Homo sapiens: one gene and its partner. The protein of the gene in region 2 binds, or shares a complex with, the protein of the main gene of each other region. Each region holds a gene or a part of one and is shown on either strand. Other genes may lie near its edges.

Region 1 (3,749 bases), on a different chromosome or scaffold from region 2:
AGGAGAGTTCAATACGATTTCTAAATCCTGACATATCTTTTCTACTAAAGCCAGCAATTCCGCAACAGGAGTTTCTAGAGCCTGAAGATGAAACGTTCTCCCAGAGGCGACCTGCTGGTAGAGACCTACAGGGGACTCTGGAGCCTAGGAGCATGCGATGGCCTTCCCAACAGGAGTGAGGTAAACAGGAGACAGGAGCAGCTCAACAGCAGGATCAAGCCTGAGTGATGGTGGCCAAGCTATGCTGCCCAGATGTCTGGAATCATTTAAAATAAAGGGGCATTTGCTGACACCACAGAAAATGCCAGGACTTGCAGTCACTCTTCACATTGCCCTTCAGCCCCCGTGAGTATCCTGGGCCCTTCCCAAAACGGCCCAGGGGCCAGAAGCTTCCTTCCACTTTGGGGCACCCTCATTCTCTTCTGTTCAGGTGGTTCTCAAGGTGCTCCTGTCAGTGGGCCTGGCCTGCAATCCCCTATAAAGCAGAAAAGCAAATTCTCGCCAGGATGAGCAGGCCCGCCCTTCCGACAGGAACGACTGGCTCAGCTCTTTCTCATTTGTCCCAAGAGTGAGTCTGGCTCCTGAGTCTCCCCGTTTTCCCTACAAAGGCCAGGTTCCAGCCAAACCAGCTCCATGGCAAATGGAAAAAACTGGCTCCTCAGTGAAAATGGCCGTTCTGATGGGGTGAGAGCCTCAGAAGGCTTCTTCAGGCCTGGGTGGCCAAGCAGCCTGAAGGTAACAAGTGTGTGCAAGGGCAGAGGGCAGAGGGCACAGGAAGGTGGGGAGGCCTCCCGCACAGGGCCCGCCTTTCCCAGGACCAGCCCACCCATCATAAGCCCTGAGTTAGGGGCTGCGTCTCTCGTGCTGCTGTCCCTTCCCACTGCAGGGCGTTGCTCTGTACCTGGCCGCTGTGAGAACAAAGCCTGCGCAGTGGCGATGGACTCTGGTAAGCTTCTTGGATTTACTTCCCAAGTGAAGTGCGGGGTGGAGCAAACCTCTAGCTCTGAGGCAGGTCAAGGGTCCAGGACACAGCCTGGGGCCTGCGCCAGCAGCTCTTCGCTGCTGACTGATTTCTCTGCTGCAGGACGGGCAAGGCCCACCCAGGGCGCCCCAGCAGGAGAGGGCTCACCATTGCTTCTCTTTTCATTCATTCATTCATTTTGTTTTTAAGAAAAAAAAACAACAACAACAAAAAAACAGGTCTAATAAGCCTTCCTTGGAGCCAAATGGGCAAAAATGTAAGGATTAAATCCCTCGCTTGGAATCGGCTACCAAAAGCTTTGTGTGACAAGAAACATTTCTGAGGCCTGTGTGAGGCCTCTCTGGGCAACAGACAGGAGCAGCAAAGTTGCAGCGTGAGGCTTTTGGAGGCACAAGGCCATTCGGGGGGTACCCGTCTCAGCCTAGCGCCTGAAGCCGGCATGCGCCTTTTGTGTGGATGTGGTCTGTGTTGTTTTGAGCCTTGGGACACTTCCTGTCCTGCAGGAACTTATGCAAGGACAGGACCCTGTATTTCTGGAATCTTCTGAGTGTTCTAAGATAGGGGCATCACTGTCATGACCTGAAGCGCCTCTGCGTGGTGAGGAGAGCCTCTGCTTAGTTAGCGGGCGTCAGGTACCATGTGGGAAAACACTGGACAACTGAGGTAAAACTTCTCCTGGGCAAAAGACCCCGGGGAAAGCCAATTTCCATGATGATGAAATTTTTGAGTAAACCATAAATCCTAACATAAAAGGAACTAGCAAAATCAATGCAGATCAGATTCCTCAATTAGACAATTGTTTTGCCAGCCCCTTTGTGAATCATGCTTGGGTTCATAAATGAGAAGAAACAACTTGGGGTGCAGAAGCAAGCTGCCCTCTGCCCCCTCCCTGAAAGCGCAGAATCTTTTCCTGCTGTCATCTGCCCAGAGCAGCCACACCAGTGCCCACGTGTCAGTGGGTTCATCTCTGGTTTTTGGTGACTTTTTCTTTTCTTCTTTGGAAGTCCAAGGTTTGTGAGGTTTCAGGACAAGATGATACAGCCTAGTTTGAGTCCCATCTGAGACACGGTAGTGGGATTCACCATGGGCTTCAGAAGTCCACTAATGGGAAGACCTGCTGAGGGCACTAGTACAGCAACGAAATTTCCTGGAGATTCTGGGTTTAGTGGCTCGGGGCAGAGGCAGGAGAGGGTGTTCTGTCTCCTCCTCACTCAGGGGCTCTTCGAGGTCAGCACTCAGACTGGAGGCCAGGGCCCCTGCAAAGGAAGCAGAGAACTGCTAAGTCATGGAGGCAACGGCGGCTCTACGGCCACACATTTCAGGGAGGATCTGTGGCACTCAGAAGGGAGGGAAACTCCCAGGAGAAGGGTCTGGTGACCTCCTCCCACGCTATGCCGGCAAAGATGTTTGTTGAATGAATAAACACATGAATGTCTTTCTTCTTATTCTTTGCCCTGGGCTTTTCTGCAGCATAAAAGAAGCTATGAATCTTGTGAAATTAATTCAGACTTACTGTCCAATTCATAAGTAAAGAATGAAGAGAAAAGGCATCTGGTCACAGTGAAAGGGAGGAAGAGCCACTGAAGAAGCAGTGGCTGGAGTCAATGGAAAAGCCCGTGAAACTTCAGAGGCCGCTCTGCAGATCCCTGGCGGTGTTCCTGGAATCTCCACGTGTTTACATATCGATATTCTACACAATGAGTTACAACTCGATTATTCCCCAAAGGGTCTAAGACTAGAGGTCAGTCCTAAATTGCTTGTCTGAATGAGTCCAGATGAGCATACAGCTGTTCATCACTGGAGGGAAAAGGAATAAAATTAAAACCTGCACATCTGCACCCCCCGCTTCCCCAGGGCTGCTGTCGGTGTGCTCAGAGGAATACAAGAATGCCTGCTGCAACACCAAGCCACTGTTGCGGGTGGAGCTGGGTCTCCCCTAGCACCGTTCTGCGAGCGAGAGGATCATTTCATCACCCTTCCCCTCGTAGTGTATTTTTAAACCCTGTTGTATTATGCCCCAAGTTTCCTGCATGACCTCTGCTGGGAACCAACCTCAGAAGCAGAGTTTCCACATCTTCCTCCCTGCGTGATTCACTTGCAGGGCTTTGGCCTTTGAAATTATTATTATTATTGGCATTTGAAATTAATTTAAGTCAGTTATTTTATTCACAGACGCATCTTTTTTCATTCTCTGACCTTCCCTTATTGTTTCTAGGAGGAGTTTCCAAAATCAATACTTGCAAACGTGCTTGGACCTATGGAGGCAGCCTGGCTCAGGGTGTCCTGAAATTCAGTACTTTCAGAGTCCAGGGGCTTCATGGTTGCCTCCCTTCTTCTAGGCTCAGTCAGGTCGGGCATACAGAGAAGGCTCACTATTCTCATCTTTAAAACAGGCTGCAGCCGGGCGCGGTGGGCGGATCGCTTCAGCCCAGGAGTTCCAGACCAGCCTGGGAAACACAGTGAAACCCCGTCTCTACAAAAACATTGCAAAACTTATCCAGGCATGGTGGTGCGCACCTGTAGTCCCAGCTACTTGGGAGGCTGAGGTGAGAGGATTTTGAGCCTGGGAGGTCAAGGCTGCAGTGATGGCTTCACTGCACTCCAGCTTAGGTGACAAAGTGAGACCCAGTCTCAAAAAAAAAACACCACACATGAAAAACCTCAGAACACAAAAACAGGCTGCTTCTGACAAAGGCAGCACAGCTAGACCATCATCCACAAGAGAAGCTAGATTGTTACAAGGCATCTCTCCATCCCCTCGCAGCTG
Region 2 (3,749 bases):
TATATACGAGACAGCTCACCTAAGTACAATCAGAAAAGTTGCTTAATCTCTCTCTCCCACCATCCCCAGGCAGTATTCAATATAACTGCTACTCAAAACCATTTACCTCTGCAACGGACTGAAGGCTTCGAGCAAACTTTAGCTGGTTAACACCATGATGGACAGGCTTGCCGTAAGTTGCACCCTTAGGAACTGGGCGTTTTCGGCCACCACGGCGAACACGAATCCTATATATAACGTAACCTACACACAAACACACACGAAATTAGTGATTTTATAGGAAGCCGTAAGGCTTAAGACTCAATGGCTTGTCACTAATACTCCACCAAAAATACTTCAACAGTAAGTTAATGCTATCTAATAGAAAAAAATAAAACACATCCCAGTCTTTTTCAATGCACCTTAGGCTACTCACACAGGGAGGCACACTGTTTATTTTGCTTTAGTCTGAACTCATTCAGATTTGTAACCTTTGACACACTTGCCACTTTAGACAACAGTGCATACAGTAACTGACCAGTGTTGCTAGCTTTTTTCTGCCAAAGCCCTATGCGAAGAAAGACACTGAGGCAGCAGTGTCTTCCTAACAGCTGGTTTCCAACTTTTCTCGAATATAATTTTATCCAAGCATCCACGCAGTCGATCACGTACCTTGCTTGGCCTTGTAGCCCAGTCGGCGCGCTTTATCAGGCCGGGTGGGGCGGGGAGCCCTGTGGAGAGCAGAGAGCTGGCGGTACTGCCAGCAGCGGACCCTCAGAAGAAAGCGCATGACATCAGACTGCTTCTTTCTCCATAGCTCCTGGATGTACTTGTATGCACCCATCTTGGCTTACCTGTGAAATCAAACTGTGTATTAAATATCATCCGCTTTAAGTACAATAAGACGACTGTATCCGTCCATCTTAGTTCCCCAACAAAAACAAGGAAACCGCCGGGAATGAAAATGGCTCTGCACCAACTGCCGGGGACAGCTAGCCCAACCCCCACCACTGCGCCCACGGAGCCGCGTTCAGTCACTTCCGCAACCCCAGCACAGAGCGGTGCTCGGCACGTTTTGGTGGGGCGAATTAACAGAACCAGAACTGAGCACCAAGGGGGCGGGTGGCTGCGGCAGGCGGCGTCCCCAAGGAGGACCTGAAAGGAGATGCCGCTGACATCACAGGACAAGGTACTGCTGCGGCCACCGAGGATTAACTCTCGAGGAAAATGCATCTACCCCACCCAACCAGCAGCCTCACTTTAGGCTGCCTTGTCCCGGGCGCCCCATTCGTCAGCCCCACGCCTCCTCCAGGATCCGGGCCCAGCTCGAATTCGCGCCGCCATCACATCTTCGCTCAACCCGCCCCGGGGGCCGCCTCTCCACCCCTTTGCTGTCCCGCATCCTGACCAAACTCTGGCCGCACAGGAGGGAGACCTATCTCCGAGGACGCAGGGTCCCCGGACCTGGATGGCTGAAGAGGAAGACGATCAAAGGCGGATGGAAGAGCAAAGATCCTCAACGCAGCCTACCTGATGGCTGCCGCCAGACGGAAAGGAAAGAGCTGTACTCCCACAATGCCTTTTGGGCTCCTCCCCCACCTCAGCCACCCTCTTTCCGGTGGAAAGCTGCGGCCTCCCAGAGCGTCATGGGACATGTAGTTCCGGCATCGCGCCTGGTGGCGGAGTTCTGCCGAGTGGGGCGCCGCGGCCGCTATTGTCCCGCCCCCTGCTCCGCAAGATTCGAGCCTGAGCGGCCTGGGCGTCTCGAGAGGTGAGAGAGTTGGCGGCGAGGTCTCGGCGGCTAAGCGAGCGTCGGCGACTGTCTCTCCGCGAGAGGAGGCAAGTTGGGGTCCAGGCTCCAAAGCCGGTGGCCGCGTACCGCGGTGGAGCCGCTGTCTTTGAGGTCTGAGGAGAGAACAGGTTTGTTTCACGCACCGCGGGCTCTCCCCCTGCGGAGTCTCTGCGTCTCCGCGTCTCCGCGCTGCGCTGTCCCTCTCTGGCCACCGCACGACGGGCGCAGAAATCTGGGCCCCAGAGCTGCGCTGAGAGATCCCCCGACGCTTCCCCAGCCTCCCAGGGAGGCCTTCGCGGAGTCGGGGCGTCGCGGGTCGGGGCGCTCGCTGTGTCCCTTCAGCTCCAGACTGCGTGAAGCTCCTCCAGCAGGCCCCAGCGCCCAGGGATTTTGTCCTAAAAAAGGGTCATGGAGTGGGTGGATTGCGGGCGGCCCGGCGCTTTTTCTGCATACGGATTTCGTCCCAAATTTGCTAACATGAGAACCACAGTTTTTCAGAAGAGCAGAATGTTTATTTGCCAAGACCTGTTTGGCAGGTGTGAATGTTTTAGAGAAGAAATGCCGAGAAAATGCTGGCATTTTGCGTTGCGGGTTTTTTTTTAAATTGAGAAATAGGTTACTGGCTTACTTTGTTTCTCCAGAATATTTTCACTTGGCTTTAATTTAAGTCATGTGGCTTTAATTTCCTTCCAGATTATGCGTTCAGATGTGGCAAAGGCTTAAGAGAATCATTATCTCTTAATCGTAGCGGTTTTGATTATCTTTTTTCCCACATCATATTTTTCTTTCTTTCTTTTTAAATCACAGCTTTACGTTTTTAAGAGTCTCTATCTGGTTCATTGATTGATTCAACAAATATTTATTAAGTGTCTAATATGTGCCAGGCATAGTTGCTGGGGATGCAGCAGGAAACAACGCAGAATTTTTGGCCTTCTTGGAAATGGGCAGTAAGCAGAAGTAAGCTGTGTTTTGGGTTTGGTGGTAAATGCTAAGGAAAAAAGATAAGGGGAGGGAAGTGATGAGGGAGTGTTAGCGGCTGAGGGTTGCAATTTGGAATGGAGTGTCCAGGTTAAGTCTTTGAGAGAAGGTAACATTTAAGAAAGGACTTCAAGGATAGGAGTCTGGGAGTAAGAGTAGGGGTCTGATTCAGGCAGAGGGAGAAGAGCCATGACTGGAGCATGCAAGATTAATAGAGGAACAGCAGGGAAGCAGTGTGGCTGAAATTCACAGTAGGGGAAAGTGGGAAATGACGTCGGAGAGGTGAAGGTTCTCACATGGACTTTGGATTTCATTGGCAGATTTTGAACAGAAGGATGACTTCATATGGCGTACATTTTAAAAAGATAACTCGGATTGCTCCTTTTGAGGCTAAAAGGAGAGAAAAAATGGAAGCAGAGAGACTGCTTAGGAAATTGTGTTAGTCTTCCATTGCTCCTGTAACAAATTTCAGCAACTTTGTTGGTTAATAATACAAATTTACCGTCTTTTAGTTTGTACATCAGACTAGGTCTGTAAATCTGTAAATATCACCAAGCTAAAACCAAAGTCAGTAGGGCTGTGTTCCTTCTGGAGGTACTAGGGGAGAGTACATTTATTTCCTTGGCTTTTCCACCTTATGAAGCCTGCCTGAATTCCTTGGCTCCTGACTGCTTCCTTCATCTTCACAGCCAGCAAAGGAGCATCTTCCAATTACACCTTCTGTCCTCTCCAGCACTCCTGTGTGTCTCTTATAAAGACACTTGTGATTACACTGGGCCCACCTAGATAATTCAGGATAATATCTTCGTATGGAAGTTCTTAATTTAATCACCCCCGCAAAATTCTTGTATGAGTATGTAAAGTAAACATATTCACAGGTTTGGGGGATTACGATATCTTTGAGAGACCAGGTGAGAGAACATGGTGCCTCACCCAGACCACTTCAGTAGTGATGAAAATGGTAAGTAGTGCAGCCCTGTATGTATTTCAAAGGTGAGGA

What was found.
Region 1: the proteins of NKIRAS1 (region 2) and RALGAPA2 are in contact, whole or in part, in a crystal structure (PDB 9QU1), measured with the Homo sapiens proteins. Residues at the interface, in NP_001364280.1 of Homo sapiens: Lys6, Glu22, Leu24, Leu25, Tyr26, Glu34, Met39, Glu40, Asp41, Val42, Tyr43, Met44, Ala45, Ser46, Val47, Glu48, Lys54, Gln56, His58, Tyr60, His74, Tyr75, Ser77, Phe78, Lys108, Thr162; in NP_065076.2 of Homo sapiens: Pro20, Lys21, Tyr51, Ser52, Gln53, Phe56, Tyr59, Glu60, Ile63, Arg99, Phe102, Arg103, Trp104, His105, Tyr106, Gln107, Ser108, Lys185, Ile186, Tyr187, Pro188, Glu189.

What each region holds. Positions count from the first base shown.
Region 1 is NC_000020.11:20,391,016-20,394,764, forward strand, and holds part of RALGAPA2 (ral GTPase-activating protein subunit alpha-2), read right to left. Parts: exon of another isoform or gene 2,496-3,749; intron 2,239-2,495; coding exon of another isoform or gene 2,084-2,238; 3' UTR 1-2,083.
Region 2 is NC_000003.12:23,914,934-23,918,682, reverse strand, and holds the start of NKIRAS1 (NF-kappa-B inhibitor-interacting Ras-like protein 1), read left to right. Parts: upstream 1-1,692; 5' UTR 1,693-1,899; exon of another isoform or gene 1,900-2,728; intron 2,729-3,069; exon of another isoform or gene 3,070-3,710; intron 3,711-3,749. Other genes in the region: RPL15 (large ribosomal subunit protein eL15), read right to left, coding at 107-243, 652-823. UniProt on the Homo sapiens protein: Atypical Ras-like protein that acts as a potent regulator of NF-kappa-B activity by preventing the degradation of NF-kappa-B inhibitor beta (NFKBIB) by most signals, explaining why NFKBIB is more resistant to degradation.